Homo sapiens: one gene and its partners. The protein of the gene in region 3 purifies or fractionates together with the protein of the main gene of each other region. This does not show direct contact. Each region holds a gene or a part of one and is shown on either strand. Other genes may lie near its edges. The genes, in order: STK26, GOLGA3, ACBD3, PDCD6, ARFGEF1, TMEM59 and XPNPEP3.

Evidence for each region.
Region 1: the proteins of ACBD3 (region 3) and STK26 fractionate together in Homo sapiens (co-fractionation; one large-scale study listed by BioGRID). This does not show direct contact.
Region 2: the proteins of ACBD3 (region 3) and GOLGA3 purify together in Homo sapiens (pull-down; one study listed by IntAct). This does not show direct contact.
Region 4: the proteins of ACBD3 (region 3) and PDCD6 purify together in Homo sapiens (pull-down; one large-scale study listed by IntAct). This does not show direct contact.
Region 5: the proteins of ACBD3 (region 3) and ARFGEF1 fractionate together in Homo sapiens (co-fractionation; one large-scale study listed by BioGRID). This does not show direct contact.
Region 6: the proteins of ACBD3 (region 3) and TMEM59 purify together in Homo sapiens (co-immunoprecipitation; one large-scale study listed by IntAct). This does not show direct contact.
Region 7: the proteins of ACBD3 (region 3) and XPNPEP3 purify together in Homo sapiens (pull-down; one large-scale study listed by IntAct). This does not show direct contact.

The regions. Positions count from the first base shown.
Region 1 is NC_000023.11:132,026,302-132,029,801, forward strand, and holds part of STK26 (serine/threonine-protein kinase 26), read left to right. Parts: intron 1-3,500. UniProt on the Homo sapiens protein: Serine/threonine-protein kinase that acts as a mediator of cell growth. Modulates apoptosis. In association with STK24 negatively regulates Golgi reorientation in polarized cell migration upon RHO activation.
Region 2 is NC_000012.12:132,804,870-132,808,369, reverse strand, and holds part of GOLGA3 (golgin subfamily A member 3), read left to right. Parts: coding exon 1-479; intron 480-1,081; coding exon 1,082-1,193; intron 1,194-3,347; coding exon 3,348-3,500. UniProt on the Homo sapiens protein: Golgi auto-antigen; probably involved in maintaining Golgi structure.
Region 3 is NC_000001.11:226,159,242-226,162,741, reverse strand, and holds part of ACBD3 (Golgi resident protein GCP60), read left to right. Parts: intron 1-1,052; coding exon 1,053-1,211; intron 1,212-3,383; coding exon 3,384-3,500. UniProt on the Homo sapiens protein: Involved in the maintenance of Golgi structure by interacting with giantin, affecting protein transport between the endoplasmic reticulum and Golgi. Involved in hormone-induced steroid biosynthesis in testicular Leydig cells.
Region 4 is NC_000005.10:306,146-309,645, forward strand, and holds part of PDCD6 (programmed cell death protein 6), read left to right. Parts: intron 1-456; coding exon 457-615; intron 616-3,500. UniProt on the Homo sapiens protein: Calcium sensor that plays a key role in processes such as endoplasmic reticulum (ER)-Golgi vesicular transport, endosomal biogenesis or membrane repair.
Region 5 is NC_000008.11:67,333,782-67,337,281, forward strand, and holds part of ARFGEF1 (brefeldin A-inhibited guanine nucleotide-exchange protein 1), read right to left. Parts: intron 1-3,500. UniProt on the Homo sapiens protein: Promotes guanine-nucleotide exchange on ARF1 and ARF3. Promotes the activation of ARF1/ARF3 through replacement of GDP with GTP. Involved in vesicular trafficking.
Region 6 is NC_000001.11:54,036,205-54,039,704, forward strand, and holds part of TMEM59 (transmembrane protein 59 isoform 2 precursor), read right to left. Parts: intron 515-3,500; coding exon 406-514; intron 1-405.
Region 7 is NC_000022.11:40,884,648-40,888,147, reverse strand, and holds part of XPNPEP3 (xaa-Pro aminopeptidase 3), read right to left. Parts: intron 1,836-3,500; coding exon 1,633-1,835; intron 1-1,632. UniProt on the Homo sapiens protein: Catalyzes the removal of a penultimate prolyl residue from the N-termini of peptides, such as Leu-Pro-Ala. Also shows low activity towards peptides with Ala or Ser at the P1 position.

The DNA of each region.
Region 1 (3,500 bases), on a different chromosome or scaffold from region 3:
TTCCTTATGAATTAGTTATTCAAACTCATATTGTTGATATTTCTTAATATTGTGGTAACGAACATTTTTTGCCACGTTACACCAAATGTTGAGGGTATGAAGTTTTTTGTACTTAATTTGTGCTTACTTCTTTAGTGTGTAACTAGAGGAATTTTCCATACCAGTAGCTGAACTCTTGAAAATATTTAAAGTACAACTTAAAAAAAAACCAATAAACCTGTTTCTTTCCACTCAAATATTTACTCTTTAATGATTCAAACCCTGTTTTCTTTGAAGTTTTCAGTTATAAATCATACTTAAGTTTAAGATATTTCCCCTTAGAGCCTACAATAGTATTTTTGAGGACAAGTTTCATTTAGAATATTGTTGATTGTTAAATCTTTCGTAAGATGTAGGTGGAAGAATAAAGTTAAATGTTGAGTTAGAGTACTAAATGTTATGCTTTATGCTGTGCCTCTTGTTAAAGAACTTTTAAAGCTTCTGCTAAAGAACTTTAAAATTAGCCTTCATGTATCTTTAAATATGACCAAGGTGGTACAGTTTAAATCTAGTTGTCATTTGAGATGAGAAGTAGAAATGAAGTTTAACGATTAATGATCACTTTATTGAAGACTTTTATCTAAGTGGTGGGAAACACTGCCCGACATTGGTGAACATAATCACTGGGTTCTGGGAAGCATACTGACGTATATTACATGTTCCACCCTTAAAGATCTTAAAATCTTGTTGAGTTGTTAAAACTAGCACATGAAATATCAAATAATGCAAAATCTGTGAACTCACTGTAAGTATAATAGAAGTTTCTCACTGGAAGTGTTGAAGGCTTCCAGAAAGTAAGCTGACCCTAAAGTCTTGTTAGGATGCACACTGGGCAGGGCATTTCCAAGCAAGGAAAAATCCCCAGCAGAGGTAGACAGACTAGGATTTTTTGACTTTACAATGGTACTCACACAACCATTCTGTTTTTCGCTTTCCATACAGTATTCAGTAAATAACATGAGCTAGTCAACACTTTGTTATAAATAGGCTTTGCATTAGATGATTTTGCTTAACTGTAGGCTACTGTAAATGTTGTGAACACGTTTAAGGTAGGCTAAGCTATGATGTTCGGTAGGTTAGGTGTACTGTATTAAATGCCTTTTCAAGTTACAATATTTTCAACTTATGATAGGTTTATTGGGACGTAACCACATTTTAAGTCAAGGAGCATATGTATACAATATAGATAAGGAAAGGTGCACTGCATTTGTGAGTGCATGCACACACACACACAATCTTTGAGAACAGGATAAAGTCATTTGGGCTGTCATAGAGAATTCCTCTAGAAAAATGATACATGATAAGGTCGGAAAACTGGATTGAGTACAGATCATGATTGTCCTTAAATGCCAGGGAAGGATTTTGGCCTTTGAACTAGCCATTAAACATTTCTGAGTAAGGGAGACTCAATGTACCAAGTTATATATCGAAAGAGAAATCTCAAAATTGGATGAATGAATCAACTGGAGGATTGAGAGGGGAAGGCAGTTTGATCTACAGAGGCTATTTCTTCTTTTTTAATTTTTTTTTTTTGAGACACGGTCTCACTCTGTCACCCAGACTGTAGTGCAGTGGCGCGATCACAGCTGACTGCAGCCGCCACTTCCTGGGTTCAAGCAATCCACCCATCTCAGCCTCCAGAGCAGCTAGAACTACAGGTGCACGCCACCATGCCTGGCTAATTTTTATGGTTTTTTTTTTTTTTTTTTGGAGACAATGTTTAGTGGTTGTCCAGGCTGGTTTCCAACTCCTGGACTCAAGCAATCCATCCACATTGGCCTTCCAAAGTGCTAGGATTACAGGCGTGAGCTACTGCGCCTGGCTACAGAGGCTATTTCAATGGGTCAATCATAGTTATACAGATGCAATGGGCCTTCCATGGACAGGTTCCATGGACATATGTTTAGTACTATGAAGAAAAAATTAATTACCAGGCTTAATAATTAGCTAGTTTCAGAAGGAAAAGTTAAAGACTGTGGTGTTTAATAGGAGGGAACTGGGAGACTTATGATACATCTGAAAGAAATTGGAATGTAGTGGGGAAGAGCCAGATCTGGTAGGAAGTTAAGGATTTCTGTTCTAGACTTGTGAATTTTGTGGTAACAATGGGATGACAAAGTACATATGTCCAATAAGTAGTTGAAAATGTAGAACTGAAGCTTTGGTCATTCATCAGATATTTACTGAGCATCTACTCTATGCCGGGCACTTCACTTGAAAATGAAGGACTAGAGACATCAAGGAGGGAGAGGTTCATAATGCCAGAAAGAATATGTGGAAGTGAGGGCCCTCATGAGACAGGAAAAGTAAGGTTGTAAGAAAAGTAAGGGTTGTAAGAAAAGTAAGGGTGTAAGAAAAGTAAGGGTGGCTTTAAGATGTATGAAAGGATGAGAACGTGTGTCAAGTTAGAGAGAGAGTTAACTGGGGTGGGGGATGGGGGGATTCTTTACTTAACAGTCATCCGGAAACCTACATTGGAGAAAGAATTCAGGTTGGTACCAGAGTCCAGTATGTGGAGTTCTTACCTCCCTTACACCTCCCTAAGGGGATAATCAGATTTGCAATTTGAGGTTGAAAGCATTGCTTTGCATTGGTGAACCCGAATTATTGTCCTTGTTATTGAGTAGTTAATGCAGAGGTGTTGAATATGCTAATGATAATGGCAGAAGACCAGCTGGAACAAAATAATCAAAGACTGTTAGCTGAGAGAAGGCGGGGTTAGTTAGAACTTTTGACACTAGGGGAGTAGGGACTGTAGGGAGAATAAACAGGAATTGGGTATGATAGGACATGTGCCTTCAACAGTAATCAGAGTTTAGAAATGGCACTTGAGTACAAAGGTCCGTCATCATGTACTTCTCTTGCTTGAGTCACAGCAAATGAGAGAATATAATTTAGCTGGTACTTAGGAACAATTGAACATTGTGATATTGTATTTTTTATTCTGCTTTTCATATTCAGTGACCTTGAGCAAATCATCTACAAAATGGGGAATAATAAAAGCTGCATTTCCTTTGCCTCAATGAGAGGTTATTAGGATGAATTAACCATCATCTGTGGAGTTGGAGCTCCTTTGTAAAAGGTGTTATGATGTATGGGGGGCAGTTCATCCTGCAAAACAATGCTTGGCTAATCACATGAAAACACTGCCATTATCTCATCTCTCTCCTGCTTGATAACCCACATTTTTCTTTTGAAACCCAATCACCACCCCACACCACCCCAATGAGACACAAAGCCCTCTGCTCAGCTTTCCATACTTTCTGTTATATGGCTCCTCTCTGTAGATCTATACTTAGTTCCCACTACATCCCAACAAGAAATCCCTTTAATTCTACCATGCCAGTCACAGTTCAATAACCAGTGATTGGCCAAATTCTACCTGATTTTCAAGGTCCTCCATCTTAGCTTCTTCATGAACTCTCTCTGAATGTCCCAGGCTATAGAAATCTCTTCTATTT
Region 2 (3,500 bases), on a different chromosome or scaffold from region 3:
GAGAAAAAAACTTCCAAATCAAGCAAAATCCGGTCTCTGGCCGATTACAGAACTGAAGATTCAAATGCGGGGAATTCTGGGGGAAATGTCCCGGCTCCCGATTCTACCAAGGGTTCCCTGAAGCAGAACAGAAGCAGTGCGGCGTCCGTTGTGTCTGAGATCAGCCTGTCCCCCGACACTGACGACCGTCTGGAGAACACCTCCCTGGCTGGAGACAGCGTGTCTGAGGTGGATGGAAATGACAGCGACAGCTCATCGTACAGCAGCGCCTCCACCCGAGGGACCTATGGCATTCTGTCGAAGACAGTGGGCACGCAGGACACCCCCTATATGGTCAACGGCCAGGAGATTCCTGCGGATACCCTGGGCCAGTTCCCCTCCATTAAGGACGTCCTCCAGGCCGCAGCCGCTGAGCACCAAGACCAGGGGCAGGAGGTCAACGGGGAGGTGCGGAGTCGGAGAGACAGCATCTGCAGCAGGTGGTGGGGACAGCAGAGGTGGGCGGGGTGGGTGGAGGTGGGTGGGGCCAACAGAGGGGGGTGTGGGGCGGGCAGAGGTGGGTGGGGCGGTAGCAGAGGTGGGTGGGGCCAACAGAGGGGGCGGGGTGGGCAGAGACGGGCAGGGCAGGCAGAGGGCCTGGCCTGAGATGTTGCTTCCCGGGCCCACGGCTCTCCGCACTGGAACAGGTGATACACAGCTTTTCTTCCTGATTCTATCCTTAGTCTTGACATGAACATTTAATTCATAACAAGTCTGCTGCTTTTTAATCAGTAGAATTAGATCAGCAATGGTCTGTGTTACTAAAATATCCAGTCTCCCGTTTACATAGACTTGTCACTAAGCTGCACGACGCTTGCATGTCTCATGTTTCTGTAACAGTTCCCACTGCGTGAGGTGCCAACTGTTGGCAGGAATGTTCATCCGTGCATCATGCAAGCCTCAGCTCTCTACTTAAATCTCTTACTTAATTTTAAAAAATTGGGAGAGAGCAGCAGGGGTGTGTGGAATTTGGAGAATGTGGAGGAGTGTGAAAGAAAATGAGGATGGCTCGCACAGGCCTGACCCGTGCCTTTGTCCCCAGCGTGTCCTTGGAGAGCTCTGCAGCAGAAACACAGGAGGAGATGCTGCAGGTGCTCAAAGAGAAAATGCGACTCGAAGGACAGCTGGAAGCCTTGTCACTGGAGGCGAGTCAGGTAACGGACGTTCGACTGACATCTCAGCGTGCGGCGAAGTCGGAAAGCATGTGTGGCTCCTCTGTTGGGTACGAGGTTTCACAGATGTGGTTGGGAATCAGCCGCCGCAGCATGTGTGGCAGCCGAGGGTTCTGCATCTTTACGTTTTTTGTCTACTTGTCAGCCTTAGAAAGAGTTGTGAGTTTTCTGCCTCATCGTGCATGGGCGTGTTTCTCCCTGCGTCTCTACCAGAATATTTGCTAGATGTTAGGTGTCTCACAGTCCATAAGAGTCAAATTCTCTTGGTGGGTTGCAGCTTTTTCTGGCATGGTGAACCTTTTTTCTTTGTAGTGATTTCTGCTTTTTCTGATACTAATTGTGCTGTATCAGAGAAAGCTGCACACGCTGGCTTGGTTAGCATGTGCCAGAAACATCATTTTCCATCCCTTATTTCAGCTCTCCTTTGTCATTTTGTCGTATGCACTTTATCCACAGTGAAGAGCTAGGTATTTATCTTCTGTCGGCAGTTGAGTAAATCTGTTCAGTGGGGTTCAGCTGTCCGCTTCTGGCGTGGGAGGGTGAGAATGCACCCAGGCCCTGAGGTGACACAGCTGAGGGAGCCTCCTGTGGCCTGCGAGGCCGCAGAGCAGGGCTGGAGCTGCTCACAGTGTCCGGAGCTTGCCTTGCTAAATGCACGCCTCATGTCGAAGATGGTTTTCTCATACAACATGGTCCTTGGACACAAACCAACCAGTTTGTGACACCTAAAGCTGTGTCTACAGAAGAGGTGATTTCGGCTGTTTTGAGGCTAATTCTGGTTGTACGGTCGTCACTTCTCCAGTGTTACAGCGTGAGCCTCCCTCCGTCGGATGCATTTCCCCTCCTCTGTGTAGCCACTCTCTCGAACGGTGGCTTGCTGTCACTGCACTTTGTCTTCTTATCCTCTTAGGATCACTGATTGGTCCTTCGGTTGCATCCACACCAAGATCGTGAGGGTTGTTTCAGGTGTGGTGGTTGCTGGCCCCTTGCTCTAGGGTCTCCTGGAGTTTGTGGAGTTCCTCAATTGCTTTGGGTGTTTGTTGTCTTGGTGATGTGTGAACTGGATCCCTGCCCCTGTAGGCCTCAGCGTGGGGGCAGGTGGTGGGGCGATTTCCTCTGGCGATTCTCTGCTGCTCCTGGGACCACACAGCACTGCGGTGGCCACTCAGGACTGTGCTGTGTCCCGTGGCTCTGGCTGGAGCCGCACTTAGGCAGCCGCCTTTCCCTGCCTGTGTTTTTTGCCCATTTCCCCCCAGATCTGAATCCGCTTTTAATCTCTCAGGGGTCCCTCTACACGTCTGGCATTCTGTGTGTGTGCGCATACATGTGCACCCGTGTACACGTTTGGTGTTTTGAACACGTTTCCAGTGTCCTCGCAGGAGACGGGTGCTTCCCCAGCCCTGCCCTAGCGCTGCCCTGTGCAGGTGCAGTTGGGCCCAAAACCAGTGCAGGCTCCCTGTGCGTCCTGGGCCTGTTTGGAAAGTCGCCTTTTTCTGTGACGGCTGTGCTGGGAGAGCGCCTGGGGGTCTCGGGGTCCTCTGTCAGGCCTTGGGAGAGCGCCTGGGGGTCTCGGGGTCCCCTGTCAGGCCTTGGGAGAGCGCCTGGGGGTCTCGGGGTCCCCTGTCAGGCCTTGGGAGAGCGCCTGGGGGTCTCGGGGTCCCCTGTCAGGCCTTGGGAGAGCGCCTGGGGGTCTCGGGGTCCCCTGTCAGGCCTTGGGAGAGCGCCTGGGGGTCTCGGGGTCCCCTGTCAGGCCTTGGGAGAGCGCCTGGGGGTCTCGGGGTCCCCTGTCAGGCCTTGGGAGAGCGCCTGGGGGTCTCGGGGTCCCCTGTCAGGCCTTGGGAGAGCGCCTGGGGGTCTCGGGGCAGGGTCCTCTGTCAGGCCTTGGGAGAGCGCCTGGGGGTCTTGGGGTCCCCTGTCAGGCCTTGGGAGAGCGCCTGGGGGTCTTGGGGTCCCCTGTCAGGCCTTGGGAGAGCGCCTGGGGGTCTTGGGGTCCTCTGTCAGGCCTTGGGAGAGCGCCTGGGGGTCTCGGGGTCCCCTGTCAGGCCCTGACTGACTCGCTGGTTGTGTTCCTGTTAATACACTGGATGGAAGTGACTCGTTTTCTTAAAATCATTGTGGTTGTTGGGATCTTTTCAGGCACTTAAAGAGAAGGCTGAGCTGCAGGCCCAGCTGGCCGCCCTCAGCACGAAGCTGCAGGCGCAGGTGGAGTGCAGCCACAGCAGCCAGCAGCGGCAGGATTCGCTGAGCTCGGAGGTGGACACCCTGAAGCAGTCGTGCTGGGACCTGGAG
Region 3 (3,500 bases):
ACTTATAGGAGTTAGAGGGGAGAAAGGTGAGGTAGCCCAGACAATTCTCGTGGTAGGTTTATGAAATAGTGTCTTATCTGATACTCCTTAGAAATCTTCCCTTTCATCCTGTCTGCAGGCTCCCTGAACACCATACCACTCTCAGACCCGGAAGATGTCCATTCCTAGCACAATAGGATCTGTTCTTTTTGGAAGGGTCTTGTGGGGTGGGTGAAAGCTGGGCAAGGGCTGCCCTGAGAGGTTAACCGTTCTTTTTTAAATTAAAAGCTTTACAAAAAATTTTAATTTCAGAAATAATACACAAATATATGCAATATAAAATTTTCATTTATGGCAGTATATGAAACACAAACTGAAAAAAATCTTTTTTCCCACATTTCTTTTAATTCCACTCTCCTCTGCATAGATAATAACTGATAAATTTAGGGTATGTCCTTCCAGATCTTTTCCTTTGTATTCACCTTTTTTTTTTTCATTAAGCAAGTGTATTACATGTCTTTACATATTAGGCAATGTATTTCTATCCTTTGGCTCTGCGATATTTCAGGGTGGATTTTTTACTTCTGTACACGTTTGTCGAGTGCTTGTTCTTTCCAGCACTGTGCTAAGCCCTGAGGATGTCGTGGTGTGAGATAGGCAGTCTCTTCCCCTATGGAGCATCTAGTTTAATGGGTAATGCAGATCTATTGCTGAATGTATCACACAAATTTAATTATAATGACAGCAGGTATTATGAAGGAAAAGCTTTTAGTGCTGTGAGCATATATTAGAGGGGATCCTTCAGGGTATAGGAATATCATAATGACTTAAGTAGTTTCTTATGATGGACACATTTCTGTTGCTGTGCAACAATAATTATTCTTGATGTGATTTGTATATTGTGCGATTGATTCCCTATAAGTTTCTGCTAGTAAAGTGTATGTATTTTAAATTTTGATGTATATATCCACATTGTTCTCTAAAAAGGTCATGTCAGTTTTCCCTGGGAGCTAAAGTTTTATTTTTAAACAGGATTCAACGTATAGGGTTCATTCTCTATCTTTGCCTTGTAGGAAGGAGGAAGAGGAGCGAAGGCGGCGTGAAGAGGAAGAAAGAGAACGTCTGCAAAAGGAGGAAGAGAAACGTAGGAGAGAAGAAGAGGAAAGGCTTCGACGGGAGGAAGAGGAAAGGAGACGGATAGAAGAAGAAAGGCTTCGGTTGGAGCAGCAAAAGTAAGTTTATTATGTGGCTTATGTTTTAAAATGAGAAATGGAAAAAAAATAGAATAAAAATAAGAAATGAGCGGGCCAGGTGTGGTGGTTCACGCCTGTAATCCCAGCACTTTGGGAGGCGGAGGCGGGCAGATCACCTGAGGTTGGGAGATCACCTGAGGTTGGGAGATGGAGACTATCCTGGCTAACACAGTGAAACCCTGTTTCTATTAAAAATACAAAAAATTAGCTGGGCGCAGTGGCATATGCCTGTAATCCCACCTACTCAGGAGGCTGAGGCAGGAGAATCTCTTGAACCCAGGAGGTGGAGGTTGCAGTGAGCCGAGATCGCGCCATTGCACTCCAGCCTGGGTAATGAGTGAAACTCCGTCTCAAAAAAAAAAAGGAATGTATTAGAAGGTTTGGGGGTTCACTTGCAGAACCCAGAGATTGGAAGCAGGAGCTGAGGTTGCTTGGTTGCGCTCTCTGTTTCTTGTCTCTGCTTCTCTCAGCTTATGTCTCTGCTTCATCCTTGCTCTCTGCAAATTGTCAACTGTCTGCTTTGGCATATGCAAGGCTGTCCGAGGATTTATTTGGTCTATGTTTCCATGCATCTGACAGAGACTGGCTGGAATCTGTGAGACCCAGTTGCAGTTTCCCAGGACAGAGAATCTTGTTGGTCCAGTCTATGTCAGATATCCATTTATAGTCCTTAGTACAAGATTTGGAGGCTTCAACTATTGCTTACTCAGTAAGGGCTTTGAGACTCAGAGACTGACAGGTTCTTCAAGAGGGAGCTGTGGGTACAAGGAGGCAGTGATTAACACCCATAAAACACTGGGAAGTAAGTCTGAGTTTGTAGGGGTGGCATGGCTTGTAGGTTAAACCAGAGAACATGAGAGTCCATTGATTTCTTCTCATTATTTCTGGGTAGTTCCTCAGAAAAAGGTTTAGTGCTAGCCTCAAACTAATCCAGGCCCTCATTCAACTTTGGAGAAAGACTATGAATGCAGCTCTTTTTTGGGGGAGGTTGTCCTAGGTGGATCGAATGTTGTGCTGTATGTAGGAGTTTGTGAGGCTTTGCTTTGTTATCTATTAATAGATGGCTTTGAGGTCTCTGTTAAGTTGGTCACATAAGTAAGTTAAGAAGCATGTGGTTGCTGGCTGTGGTGGCTCATGCCTGTAATCCCAGCACTTTGGGAGGCCGAGGCGGGCGGATCACTTGATTGAGGTCAGGGGTTTGAAACGAGCCTGGCCAACATGGTGAAACCGTCTTTACTAAAAATATAAAGATTAGCCAGGCGTGGTAGCAGGTGCCTGTAATCCCAGCTACTTGGGAGGCTGAGGCAGGAGAATCGCTTGAACCTAGGAAGTGGAGGTTGCAGTGAGCTGAGATCACGCCACTGCACTCCAGCATGGGTGACAGAGTGAAACTCCGTCTCAAAAAAAAAAAAAAGAAGAAGCATGTGGTTTATCTATAAAAGAATATGAGTATCTCTAAACTAAGCATGCCAAGATATTTTCAGTATTTCCTCTATTAAGACAGGCTTTAAATTAAATGCTGTGGACCCTTAATTTTTCACTGGCTTTATTTATACTTACCAGGGCCACCTGTAACATCTTCCAGCTATTCTTCTGCCTCTTACTGTTTTTTATGTATTTAGGTACAGAAGCCATAGCCAACAGTTAAATACCTCATCTATGTCAGAGATGACAATCCATCATCTTAAAGCATCGTGGTAAATTAGTGTAGCTCTAGAGCCAAACTGCCTGGATTTGCATCAGGCTGTAGCATCTGCTAGCAGTATAGTCTTGGGCAAGTTACTGAACCCTCTGTCAGAGGGTTGTTGTGAGGACTAAATGGGTTAGTATGTGTGAGTACTTTCAACACTGCATGGCACATAGTAAGGGCACAATAAATGTTAATAATTATGATGGTGGTCATGATGATGATGATCATATGCTTATCTTCCATCCCGAATTTTCCTGGAAAATCCTAAGTAAAAAATTAGAGGCCAGGCTTATTTTCTTAAATCTTTCTTCTGGACCCAGAACACATACTAATTGGTGTACATTACTAGCTTAGTTGTTTTTAAGAGTTACAGACTGTAAAAGTAAGTAATAAGGACATTTTATTTTGTCATGAACAATCTCCTGTAGCCAGACTAGTATATATATTTTTAATGTTTTTAGGCAGCAGATAATGGCAGCTTTAAACTCCCAGACTGCCGTGCAGTTCCAGCAGTATGCAGCCCAACAGTATCCAGGGAACTACGAACAGCAGCAAATTCTCATCCGCCAGTTGCAGGA
Region 4 (3,500 bases), on a different chromosome or scaffold from region 3:
ACCAGTGCTGTGGGCCCTGGAGAGTCAGAGGGTCAGCTCTGGGAATTAGATTCGCGTTCTAGGCCGAGACCCAGGAGCCAGGGGAGCTGGGGCCACTTACCTTCCCCGTGCCTCGGAAGCTGAGTGTGAAGCTCTGCTCTTCTTTCTGTCGTGGCTGCGGCTGGATTTCCTCACACATCCCATTGCACGGCCTGCCTCACAGCTGCAAGTGCACCTTCTCCTGGGACTTAGGGGGTCAGGGCTGGGGGACAATCCCCCACACCCCCACCCAGGGCGAAGGTGACAAGACTTTAAGGGATTTCACCCCATTCACAGACAGGCATGCATTGCCCAGTCCCTGGTTAGTGGTCAGCAGTGGGGCCCCGCCAGGCTCTGAGGGCTGAGGTCTGGTGGGAAGCCTCAAGTGAGTTTGCTGCAACTGATCTTTTGCTGCTTGACCGTTCCTCTCTGTCTCAGCCATGTTTGACCGTGAGAACAAGGCCGGCGTGAACTTCAGCGAGTTCACGGGTGTGTGGAAGTACATCACGGACTGGCAGAACGTCTTCCGCACGTACGACCGGGACAACTCCGGGATGATCGATAAGAACGAGCTGAAGCAGGCCCTCTCAGGTTTCGGTAACTCACTCACTCTGGCTTGTGTAGCGTGTTTCATTTTGGAACCTTGGAGCCGTTGAAGTTCTTTAAACCTTGTTGGACTTAACTGATTGTCTAACCAGGCTACGTAAAGTTTTTGTTGACGTCATGCAGGTTCATATTTGATATTGCTCATGTCGGAAGGCGATCCTCGACATGGATACGTTTATTCAGGTTTTTATCCAAAATGAGATAAGGGCTATGCAAGCCGTTCATCTTTTCTGAAGTGGAATGATGTCGTGAGCAAAACTGAGAATGTGGCTTTTGAAATCATTTAAAAGTGGATCCATGAAAATACCGTGGGGCAGGGCAGCTTATATTTCATGATAGATCAAAGCACGTTGAAAAGGCAACAGTCACCTAAGAAACAGCTGTCAGTCACCAGGTCCAAACCGTGCGCCTCAGAAGGGGCGTTAGGCAGAACGCGTGCCCATTCTCAGGTGTGCTCGGCGTGTGTGTGCTCGGCGTGTGTGTGCTCGGCGTGTGTGTGCACACGTGTGCCGTGCGCCTCAGAAGGGGCGTTAGGCAGAACGCGTGCCCATTCTCAGGTGTGCTCGGCGTGTGTGTGCTCGGCGTGTGTGTGCACACGTGTGCCGTGCGCCTCAGAAGGGGCGTTAGGCAGAACGCGTGCCCATTCTCAGGTGCGCTCAGCGTGTGTGTGCTTGACGCGTGTGCACACACACATGTGACGGTGTGCCGTGGGTCTAGGAGTGTTCACAGTGCCTGTCCAGAGTGCGTCCATAGGGCCTGTCCACGGGGCTTCCCGTGCTGCTCTCAGGGCTGAGAGGAAGCAGGGGTTTTATTTACAGAGGAACAACGGGCATGTTTGGGGCCAGCCTGAGGCTGTTGGTGGCTGCACCGAGATTCTAATCCATGCGGATCTCATCTGGCCCCTGTTGTGAAGCCGCTTCCGTGATTTGCTTAAAAGGCTCCTTAGAAACAGTGAGGAAAATTCGATTCTACTTGAGTACCTCCGAGATCCCTGGAGTCTCACTTATCTAAGCACGTCGCCTCTCCTCGTGTTTCCTCCCAGCATGCACTTTGTGGCTGCCTTTCTTTCTCTTTTCTTTCTCACCTTACGAGCTTGTCCACAGGGCCGGGGGTGGACACTGGGTCTCCTCAAGAAGCAGTTCTGAGCTGACCAGCTGCGAGCCAGGATTTGGGCTGGATGGCTCTGAATTGGTACTTGGAATGCAGCTGACCTTGCTGTGCCCTTGGGTGGGGGAACTGGAGGGAACGCTGGCCGGCTCCTCTTCCCTGGGGCAGGTACGGAAGGGCTGGGAGGGAAGGATGCCACCCTCCACAGAGAGTGGTCCTGGGGGCCAGGGAGGCCAGTGCTGCCGATTGCGGCCAGGGCCACGTGGACTTCAGGACCGGCCTGAAGTTATTTTTAGATAAGCGACCTCTGGCGCCACGGACATCTTTTCCTAACCTTGTCAGGCCCTGGAGCTCCCTTTGTCCATGCCAGTGACCATCGGTCCTCAGAATGTGCAGTGGAAGTTGCTGTGGACAGTGCTCCCTGGTCTCTGAGGCCCTCTTCGTCCTGGTCTGGCCAAGGACTTCCCAGAAAACTGTGCTTAGCTGTGGCGGGAGGCACGGCCGGTCACGCAGCCTTCCTCCCGCCCTGGAGTGGGCAGGCCTGCTTGTGTTGTGCAGCGGCAGAACCCTTCCTGACTTCCAGGTTTTTCCTGGGGTGCGGCATCCCATCGCAGCATTTTCTCTGGTTACCCTCACGAGTTTCCTCCTGCGTTTGGTTCTTGATCTCCAGGGCCATCTCCCACGTCTTCCTTGGAAAGGGGCATTGTCATCCTTTTTGTATTTTGATGATTTTGAAAGATTTCCCATAGTAACTGTTAGGAAGTTGGCCTCAGAAGCAAAAATTCTTCTTTTGTCTTGGCCCCTGTGAACAAGTGTTCTGCTCTCAGATGAAGCAGGGAGGCTGCACTGGAGCTTGGTGGCCAGCAGGAGGGAATCACCAGGGTGGTGAAGCCTGCGAGATTTCTCCCCGGGTGTCTCTGATGGGGCCACATGGTGGATTTCATAATCCACCGATTCGTTTTTTTAAGCCTTTATTGTTAACATCAACTGTGTGCCATGCTCAGAGACCTGAAGTGAAAAGGTGAGGAAGGCGTGCTCACATTCCAGCACTCACCACCCGGCACCGGGACAGCTGACTCAGCACGTGCCGTTTAGGTTGCTGTAAACAGCCGGTGAGATTCTCCCCTCTGGTGGGCAGTGCGTGTCTGACAAAGGCAGTCGGGCGGAGAACAGTTCCTCCGCTGTGGTCCTTTGCCACTGTACCAGGCCCCCAAGAGCTGGGGGGAGCCCCAGGGAGCCTCAGCCTGTTGAGTGGGGGCAGCTGGTTTGTCCTCCGAGGTGGAAGAGGTGATTTCTGAGGAGGTCATGCTCCGCTTGGCTCGTTCACAGCATTTCAGAGAGTCCGAAAGAGGAGAAAGACCTTGGCAAGGGGTGTGTCAGGGGTGGGCCCAGGGACGCTGGTGGCCTCATGTGGACTGACTTTCATGAACAGAAACTCAGAAACAGTTGCTTCTGGATTTTGGCTTCTCAGATAAACATTCTTTTTGTAGTTCGTTTGTTCATCCCTCATTTTGCTGTCTGACTTTGCCTTTCTTTTCCCTTCACTATTACTGATGACCAAGGAAACTGGAAGTTAATTCCAGAGGCAGTGGGGTTGCTCCTGTTGTCTGTGCAGACTGGAGTTCCTCTGCCTCTGTCAGCATCTCCTCTGTCCTTCCCCAGCCTTGGCAGGAGACCAGTAATGACCTCTGTCCCCGTGCACCCCAGTGATGGCCGCCGTCCCCGTGCACCCCAGTGATGGCCGCCGTCCCCGTGCACACCAGTGAGGG
Region 5 (3,500 bases), on a different chromosome or scaffold from region 3:
ATCTCACGTGATGGGTCACAGTCAAAACACAGTCAAAATTTTGTTTCATGCACAAAATTAACAACAGTGCATAAGACCAGGTGCAGTGGCTCATGCCTGTAATCCCAGCACTTTGGGAGGCCAAGGTCAGCGGATCACCTGAGGTCAGAGTTTGAAACCAGCCTGGCCAACATGGCAAAACCCCATCTCTACTAAAAATACAAAATTAGCTGAGCATGGTGGCGCATGCCTGTAATCCCAGCTACTTGGGAGGCTGAGACAGGAGAATCACTTGAACCTGGGAAGCGGAAGTTACAGTGAGCTGAGATCGCACCACTGCACTCCAGCCTGAGCAACAATAGCTAAACTCCGTCTCAAAAAAAAAAAAAAAAAAAAAGAATAGTGCATAAAATTACCTTTGGATTGTGTATAAGGTGGATGTGAAACATTAGTAAATTTTGTGTTTAGACTTCAATCTCATCCCCAAGATATTTCATTATGTATATGCAAATATTCCAAAGTCCAAAAAAAAAAAAAAAAACAAAATTGAAAACATTTCTGATCCCAAGCATTTCTGATAAAGGATATTTAATCTGTACTTCAAAAAGTTAACAGTGTTTCAATGAAGTAACACTTCATCATAACAACTAGGATGGCTAAAAATAAAAAGGCAGTAACAAATATTGGTGAGAATTTGAAGAAACGGGAAGCCTCATACACTGCTGGTGGGTATGTAGGCTGGAAAAGAATTTAGCAGTTTCTTAAAAAGTTAAACATAAATTTATCAAGTGGCCCACCAATTCCCTTCCCAGTTTGTCTACCTAGGACAAATAACAGTTTACGTCCACACAAAGACTTATACACAAATATTCATGGCAGTATTATTCATTCAACCCAAATATCCATCAACTGGTAAATGGATAAACAAAATATAGGATATCTAAACAATGGAATGCTATTCATCAATAAAAGGAAATGAAGTGTGGATACAAACTTCATGAATGAACCTCAAAAACATACTGAAAGAAACCAGACACTAACGACCACCTGTGTATAACTGCATTTCATGAAATGTCCAGAAAAGGCAACTCTAAAGACAGAAAATAGATTAGTGAATGCCAGAAGCTAGGGATGACAACAAGGGCACTACAGATTTTATTGAGGTAATAGAAATGTTCTAAAACTGGATTTATGCTGATGGCTGCATAATTCAGTAAATTTACCAAAAATCATTACACTCAAAAAAAGTAAATACTATAGTATGTAAATCATTTATCAGAAAGTTGTTTTTCAAAAAGTTAACAGTAGTTATTTATCTTCAGCTAAGAGTATCACGGTAAATTTTTTTTTTTTTTTTTTTTTTGAGACAGAGTCTCACTCTGTCACCCAGGCTGGAGTGCAGTGGCGCAATCTCGGCTCACTGCAAGCTCCGCCTCCCGGGCTCACACCATTCTCCTGCCTCAGCCTCCCAAGTAGCTAGGACTACAGGCGCCCGCCACTACGACTGGCTAATTTTTTGTATTTTTAGTAGAGACGGGGTTTCACTGTGTTAGCCAGGATGGTCTCGATCTCCTCACCTCATGATCTGCCCGCCTCAGCCTCCCAAAGTGCTGGGATCACAGGCGCCAGCCACCACGCCGGGCCCCGTATCACAGTAAATTTTATTGTTGTAGTTACACTTTTGAAAATGATTTGAAGGATTCGTTTATAAAAAATATCAAATTACCAAACTTACTGGAATTATAAAAGCATACAGACTGAGTAAAAGCCATAGAGATTCTCTTCTATATAAAGTGCTTGGCCTTCAAAATATGTACTTTGACTGCTTATATTTTTATTATTTCTTAGCAAAGTTCTGACAGATGAGGATTGTTAAACAGCTGATTAAATGAAGTCTCAATGTACACATTTTTGTTAAGAAAAATTAATAGCCTCACATGGCGTTTCCTAAAGACACGCCAGTGGTAATATGAAATATTTTAAAGATTTTCTTTTTTTTTTTTTGAGACGGACTCTCGCACTGTCTCTCGGGCTGGAGTGCAGTAGCACAATCTTGGCTCACTGCAACCTCCGCCTTCCAGGTTCAAGCGATTCTCCTGCCTCAGCCTCCTAAATAGCTGGGATTACAGGCGCCCACTGCCACCACGCCCGGCTAACTTTTTGTATTTTTAGTAGAGACGGAGTTTCACTATGCTGGCCAGGCTGGTCTCGAACGCCTGACCTCATGATCCACCTGCCTCGGCCTCCCGAAGTGCTGGGATTACAGGCGTGAGCCACCGCGCCCGGCCATTTTAAAGATTTTCAAAGACTTTTCTGAATGAAAAGATAACATAGGTTATATAAACAAATTTAGTTACATCAAGTCTAAGTCTAAGCAAAACAAAATATCAAAAGCAGAACACAAAACTTTTTAAATATTCTTAAATACTTGAGCCCAGACCTTTTAAGAAGCTTTTCAAGAGCCTCTACTTATAACACACTAAAGCCTCAGAATAACTGCTTTCTAGATTCATGAAACAATCAGAGATGAGCCAAAGACAGGATCTGATTGTGTAAACATATGTACAGTAGACTCTGTAAGTGGAAACTTGAATAAAGAAATCAAAATGGGTCTGAAAAGTTAGGATAAAAGGGAACTTGCATTCATTTCCTAAGGCTGCCTTAATAAATTACCATAAATTTGGTGGCTTAAAACAACAGAAATTTCCTCTCATAGTTCTGGTGGCCCAAAATCTAAAATCAAGGTCACAGCAGAGCTATGCTACATCCAAAGGGAAGAATCCCTCCTTGCCTCTTCCTACTTCTGGTGGCTTCTGGCATTCCATAGCATGTGGCAGCAGTAACTGATCTCGTCTCCATTTTCACATGGACTTTTTCCTTTGTATGTGACTGTGTCCCTTCCTCTTCCTTAAAAGGACACCATTCACTGGATTTAGGGCCCACCTAAAGGCTCTAAGTTGAGGATCTCAACTTCACCTTGAGATCTTTCACTACATCCACAAAGTTCCTATTCCAGGAAAAGAACCAGACAAGTGAAAGGCTCATTTCTTTGATAAAAAAACCTCCCTGCAAAAAACCTGACAAGGCAGGCCGGGCGCGGTGGCTCACGCCTGTAATCCCAGCACCTTGGGAGGCCAAGGCAGGAGGATCACAAGGTCAGGAGATCGAGACCATCCTGGCTAACACGGTGAAACCCCATCTCTAATAAAAATACAAAAAAAATCAGCCGGGCGCGGTAGCGCTACACGAGATTAGCTACTCGAGAGGCTGAGGCAGGAGAATGGCGTGAACTCGGGAGGCGGAGCTTGCAGTGAGCCAGGATCGCGCCACTGCACTCCAGCCTGTGTGACAGAGCGTGACGCCGTCTCAAAAAAAAAAAAAAAAAAAAAAACAGACAAAACAAATTGAAATTATTTTGTGTTATTCTCAGTAGAAAATATCCTATTATATCATCTGAAAATTCTATCATTAAAACATTCTAAAATACATATAAAAGGCAGGATGAAAATGTTTTACTGTCT
Region 6 (3,500 bases), about 170 Mb from region 3:
TAGGAAGCAGAGGTTGCAGTGAGCCAAGATCCTGGCCACTGCACTCTAGCCTGGGTGACAGATGAGACTCTGCCTCAAAAAAAAAAAAAGTCTTCTTTCCCATATATCCCCTAGAAACTGATGTCAACAGGTCTTTTCAGTCTTAGAGAGTCAGAAAGAGACACCGTTCTCAAGCCAGTCAACATATATGTCACCACGGTAGTTAGCATCACAGAAAGCTGAGAACAACAATTCTTGTGCTGCAAACCTGTAATTTTTATGTGTGCCAACCTCTACCACATTAAAACCACCACATCTTCTCTCTTTCTATTAGTAGAAAGGCCTTGTTTTTCCAGCTAAACAAATAAGGTGTTTAAAATGATATATCACAGGGCTCAGTCTTCAAATGGTAAGAATTAAATTTACCTCAGAGGGAACATACTGCTCCACAGCTGTAGCAACAGTTGCACAACAAATCCAAAGCAATACCATCACCGAGAGGACAAGAGTTGTAGTTAAAATCCACCCAGAGTTACTGGAAAAAAAAAATCAACAATTAGTTATATTAAAATTTTATAAGAAACAGGAAATTCTTAATTAGTCAACCTTATGTACTTAGCTCAACAGTACAATTAAAACTTTGTTGGTTATCTTTGAAACTATTAAAAAACATACTTACAGAAGGAAATATTATACTAATAGCTATTACATTAGGTTGGCATAAAGTCTTTTTCCTCCACTTCTAATGTTTCTGTAACATGGCTATATCACTTTTGTAATAATAATAAAATCAGATATACTTGACTTTCTGCTAAATATATAAGGCAAGTGAAAGTGTCCTGTAAATTGTACACTGTTGTACAAATGTCATATATTATTTTGCAAGTTATTACGATACTTGCTTTAAGAAAACCAATATACCAAAAAGTTAAGGTATAGAATAGGTAAATTTAAAATGATCATTTGTTTTATAAAAGAATTCACACCAGGCTTCCAGAAGTCAGTTTCCCTAGAATACTTTACATATTCAATTTGCCATAATTTACTTATACTTCAATTTAAAAAAGCACAGCTATTATAAGGCATTCTGTAACCATTACAGCATATCTCAGTAAAGAGATAGTTATATTTTCCTTATAATTAAAATATCTTAAGACAGAAGGCCAGTTATGAGAATCAGCAATTAGAGATTTTTTATTTATTTTTATTTATTTTGAATTTTTATAGAGACAAGCTCTCACTATATTGCCCAGGCTGGCCTTGAACTCATGGGCGCAAGCCATTCTCCCACCTGGAGTTTTTTTCATAATTGACCTATTAAGATTCAAAGAATAGGAAAAAGTCAAGCCATTTTTAAATAATTAAAAGTCTAACTCTGACAAACTGTGTAATACAGATACTCCCTAATTTTCACATCTCTGCTCATCCAACACTGCCTAGTAAGAGATCTATACTTACCACCCTAATCACTCACTTGATAGTTTGCCAAGACTTGAACATGCAGTAAGCACAGTCATTGTTTGTCTGCCAGCAAAAGAGGTGGACTTTGGAGAATGTATTGTATCTAAAAGCAGGGAACTCCCATATGATTCTTTAAGTATCCAATTTAGAAAGATAATAGAGTAAAATATGTTTTTAATGAACAAATACCCACTTTCCTCTCCATGTTCCAGCCCTAAGTAACCTGAGTACTAAGGAATTTACCACAAAATGAGGATATATTTGATATCTAGATTCCAGTAGCAACTACCTAAGCCAGAAAACTGGGGCTCATCCCTTCAATCTCCACAACAAAACAATGACTAGATCCTACAGATTTTCAACTATCTCCATTATCTCCTGTTCTTATCTACTGCCCTAATCCAGACCTCATAATTTCTTCCCTGATTTACCAAAGTTCTCCAACCTGGTCCTCTAATCTATCCTTCACATAGAAGCCTCTTCTTGACACTTATGTTCCTGATTCTCTCTATTCCTGTTTTCCCAGTTCAGTCAAATTTCTGACTCTCCTTATCCTCCATATATAGTAATGTACCCTATACACATTGAGCAGGAGGCCAGTATATCTGAAAAAAAAATTTTAAGTAAATCTTCTGCTATAACTAGCAAAAATTTCTACTCATCACTTGAGATATTTCTATCTCACCTGTCAATCCTCCCCTTGAAACCTCCAGTAGACTTAAATACAGTCCTTATATGCTGTGTATGAGACATGTGTAGGACTGTGTGTGTGTATAGCAATCATTATTGTCCATGTCTGTTTAGATCTGAGAACTCCTGACATCTTTACTAGGTCTCAACTCCCTAGCACAGTGCCTGGCTCCTCAAAAAGAAATGCAAGTGAAGAAAGAGTGACCTCAATTTCCATTCTGGAGACAAGGGTGTCTCTTTAACAGCTACGACCAGATTCCAATAACTGGCTGAGTGATTCTGTATGTAATCATGGAAAAATCATGACACTTTAGGAAGTAAATAGTTACAGCAGAATAGGATGAGCAGAAGATGTACAGTTAGAAAAATTAGGTTTGAATGCTAACATAGTGACTGTATAACCTTGCGAGTAGTCAATTCACCTCTCTAAATCACCACCTACTTATCACAGGGTATTGTTCTAAAAGTCAAATGGGATCACTGAAGGGGAAAAAGCATTTAAAAAAAGAACACTTAAAAAAATAATAAAATTTGAGACAGTCTCGCTTTGTCACTCAGGCAGTGCAATGGCACGATCACAGCTCACTGCAGTCTCAACCTCCTGGGTTCAAGTGATTCTCCCACCTCAGCCTCTTGACAACTGGGACTACAGGTGTGTGCCACCATGTCCAGCTAATTTTTTTATTTTTTGTAGAGATGGATGGGGTCTCACTATGTTACCCAAGCTGATCTTGAACTTCTGGGCTCAAGTGATCCTCCCACCTTGGCCTTCCAAAGTGCTGGGATTACATGCATGAGCCACCGCACTCGGCCAAAAGAATAATTTTTATTCAAATGTAGGATCCTATTATAATTTATGTTTGGGCACAGAAACTTCTAAGAAATACATTTCTATAAATACATTATAAAGTTAGTTGCTTCACAAAATTACTTTTAAAGTGTTAGATGTAAAAAAACAACATAACATATAATGACAAAATGTTAAAGGTCAATAAATCACCAATAATATGCCAGGTAGTACAGTACTGAGAACTGTAACTTAAGATTAAATAATTATTTAGGTTTCACAGAACTATCAAACTGCAACATACATCCTAAATACTGGAAAGAAAAACTGCCCTTTTTTGGACAAGCTCAAAACCAGGTTTAGAAATGAACGAAGGATAAAATTTAAAGTTTAATCCTTGTTTTCTCACATAGTCTTTAAACATTTTGCTTAGTAAAAAGTATTAATTTGTAAGGTCCACATAATTGTAATGATATATGATAAAACCTCTCAAGAAACTGTTTCTATAAGAAATTACAGGGAGCATGTGATTTGGACTACTGCAGTTTTATACTTGAGATAGAACAGTCCACTAGAATGAACA
Region 7 (3,500 bases), on a different chromosome or scaffold from region 3:
TAGGTAGATTCACAGAGAAAGTAGAGGTTACTGGGGGCTGGAGGAGGGGAGAATGGGAAGTTATTATTTATCTGTACAGTTTCTATTTGGAATGATGGAGAAAGTCGGGAAAAAGTGGGCACAACAATGTGAATGTACTTAATGTCATTGATTTGCATACTTAAAAACGGTTAAAATGATATATTTTATGTTATGCACATTTCACCACAGTAAAAAGATTTTTTTAAATTAAGTCAATGGCCAACACCTTGGAGAGAATAAATGAAATAGGGAGTTTTGGGATAGTTTCTATCAGTTTGCCAGTGAGATTTATGGTTTACACTTGGTCTCTGTGAAAACTCTCGGGGGGCTTTACTGTTACGTAGCAGGAATATGATTATGTGACCAAAAAAACAAAAATCCCTAGCTGAGATTCCATTTTGGAGTCTCTGATTCTGAGGTAGTCTGTTGCATGTGCCATGGACTGAATTGTGTTTCCCGCAGAATTAATGTGTTAAAGCTCTAATCTCTATGTCTTTAGGAGGTAGTTAAGGTTAAATTAGGTAATTAAGGGTGGGGCTCTAATTTGATAGGACCATGGCCTTGTAAAAAGGCCCTCTTTCACTGTCATGTAAGGACACAGCAAGAAAGCCGCCTTCTGTAAGCCGGGAGAGCCCTCACCAGAAATGGACCATGATGGCACCTTGATCTCGGACTTCCAGACTGCAAAATTATGAGACAATACATTTCTCTTGTTTAAGCCATGCAGACTGTGATATTTTGTAATGGCAGCCTGAGCAGAGTATGACAACACTGGTGATTCCTAATCTGTAAGAGAAAGATACATCCTGCCTGGCCCTCACCTAGGGAGGACCAGAGAAGCCTGCACCTGGCTTCTCTAGACTCCTTGCTTTGAGACAGCCATTGGCTGTGATATATATCCTTACTTTCATATTATGGTTATTTTTTACCCTTTTCCTATAATAAACTGCAGATCTGTAAGCATTGTCACTTTGGGTCCTGAGTCTTTCTTAGAACCAAACTGTTTAACTGACACTATTAGTGTAACTATAAGGAAAAGAAACAGTATTAATTTCTGTCGTTCTAAGGAGAAATAATTAAGATTGATGGGTAAAAGAACCATCTTAACAGAAGGCAGATTTACTTTGTCTTGCAAGGTATTAAGCAAGTCTCTAGGTATGTTCACTACACACTGGAGCAGAAGCTAGATGCCATTCTGCGGTGAGGAGACTGCTGCATTGGGTATACGACCTCAAGAGCTTACGATTTTTCCAATCTGGAAAAAACTTTTTCTTTTTTTCTTGTTTTTTTTTTTTTTTTTGAGATGGAGTCTCGCTCTGTCGCCCAGGCTGGAGTGCAGTGGCCCGATCTCGGCTCACTGCAAGCTCTGCCTCCCGGGTTCACACCATTCTCCTGCCTCAGCCTACCGAGTAGCTGGGACTACAGGAGCCCGCCACCATGCCCGGCTAATTTTTTATGTTTTTTTAGTAGAGACGGGGTTTCACCATGTTAGCCAGGATGGTCTCGATCTCCTGACCTCATGATCCACCTGCCTCGGCCTCCCAAAGTGCTTGGATTACAGGCGTGAGCCACCGCGCCCGGCTGGAAAAAACTTTTCAATAGGAATCATACCTGTGATGTCAGCTTCCCAGCAATCTGCATTCGTTCAATTTCTGCAGGAGACTTGATCAGCCGGAGGCGCTGTATCAGCTGCTGAACACCCCGAACCTTGTTCTTGCTCTTGGCTTTGGCCTCAGTCAGGGGCTGCATATAGTCAGAGTGAAGCTGTGCATGTGAGGGCCTCATCCAGTCATACCAAACCATGTTCGTCTCAGCTTAGAATGAGAAGCCGAAAAATAAATTTAAAACAAAACTACCAGCAACAAGAAATATCAACTGTCATAACGACTTGAACAAGAGTCAAAACTATAAAACCTGTAACGTGGAACTCTAAAGTGTTGAGACTTAAGACTCTCTCAGGACTGAAGCAATAAAGGTTTGATTATAAATCATTAGAAAGGTCATTCCCTGGAAATGGCAAGATATTCTAAGACTGAATATACAGCTTTTCTGCCCCTAAACTTCAGTGTTCTTTATAAAGGATGATACGGGACTAAAGCTTTAGTCAAGCTTTGATTTTCTCTCTTTCTCTCTCTCTTTATTTTTGAGATGGAGTCTTGCTCTGTTGCCCAGGCTGGAGTGCAGTGGCACAATCTCAGCTCACTGCAACCTCCGCCTCCCAGGTTCAAACGATTCTTCTGCCTCAGCCTCCCAAGTAGCTGGGACTACAGGTGCCCGCCACCATGCCCAGCTAATTTTTGTATTTTCAGTAGAGATGAGGTTTCACCATATTGGTCAGGCTGGTCTCGAACTCCTGACTTGTGATCCACCCGCCTCAGTCTCCCAAAGTGCTGAGATTACAGGCGTGAATCACCATGCCCGGCCTTCATTATTAAACAATTAGAACAACTGTTCTTCACCACCACTTACTGAGCTAGAGGCACTTGTTGAATAATTGCACACAGAAGGACAGAAAAACATACTCAGATCATGACTTTATGGGTAAAGTGTCCCATCCTTTCACATAATGATCTCAGTACTAGAGGAAAGGGTTCTCCTCCCATTCTGGAGCAATTATTCATTGCTATGGAAAAACTACAGTTGATATTTCCTCACTTCTCCCTTTGCATCTGCTATACATTCTCTTTGTAAACAATCACAGTTCAGCTTTCAACTTTAGAGACCTAAGGAAATGGTCTGTATTTGCCTAAGATATACGATATAAAGGCTCATTATAAAAATGATTTGCACTTAATATCAGATCTACATTTGTTCTTTTTTTCTAACAGTAGGCTACAAACAGTATTCCTAACAATCCAAGTGAGAAGGTCTGAATATTTTATATGACTAAAAAGTACTTTGGGGAAAGTAGAGGGGAAAAAATCCAGAAAACTTTGATTGGATATGCACTGATTCTATGATTCTATGTCCTATGTGATTCTATGTCCTACATATTTTCATTTTTAAAATAAAAATGGTTCTAAATATATACTACATGGGAAACACCTTCCTACTTACGATAGATGGAAATTTAATTGTCGTGTAATTTTTTTTTTTTTTGAGACGTAGTCTTGCTCTGTCACCCAGGCTGGAGTGCAGTGGCGCGATCTCGGCTCACTGCAACCTCCACCTCCCTGGTTCAAGCAATTCCCCTGCCTCAACCTCCCAAGTAGCTGGGATTACAGGCGCATGCCACCACGTCCAGCTAATTTTTTCGTATTTTTAGTAGAGACGGGGTTTCACCATGTTGTCCAGACTGGTCTCGAACTCCTGATCTCAGGCAATCCACCTCCCTTGGCCTCCCGAAGTGCTGGGATTACAGGCGTGAGCCACTGCACCCGGCCAATTGTTGTAATTTTTAAAAAGTAAAACAATCTCTACTACACGTTCAAAGTGTATGAAATCATAGCTCACTTTTTTAAAGGTTTTTAAACCTTTCA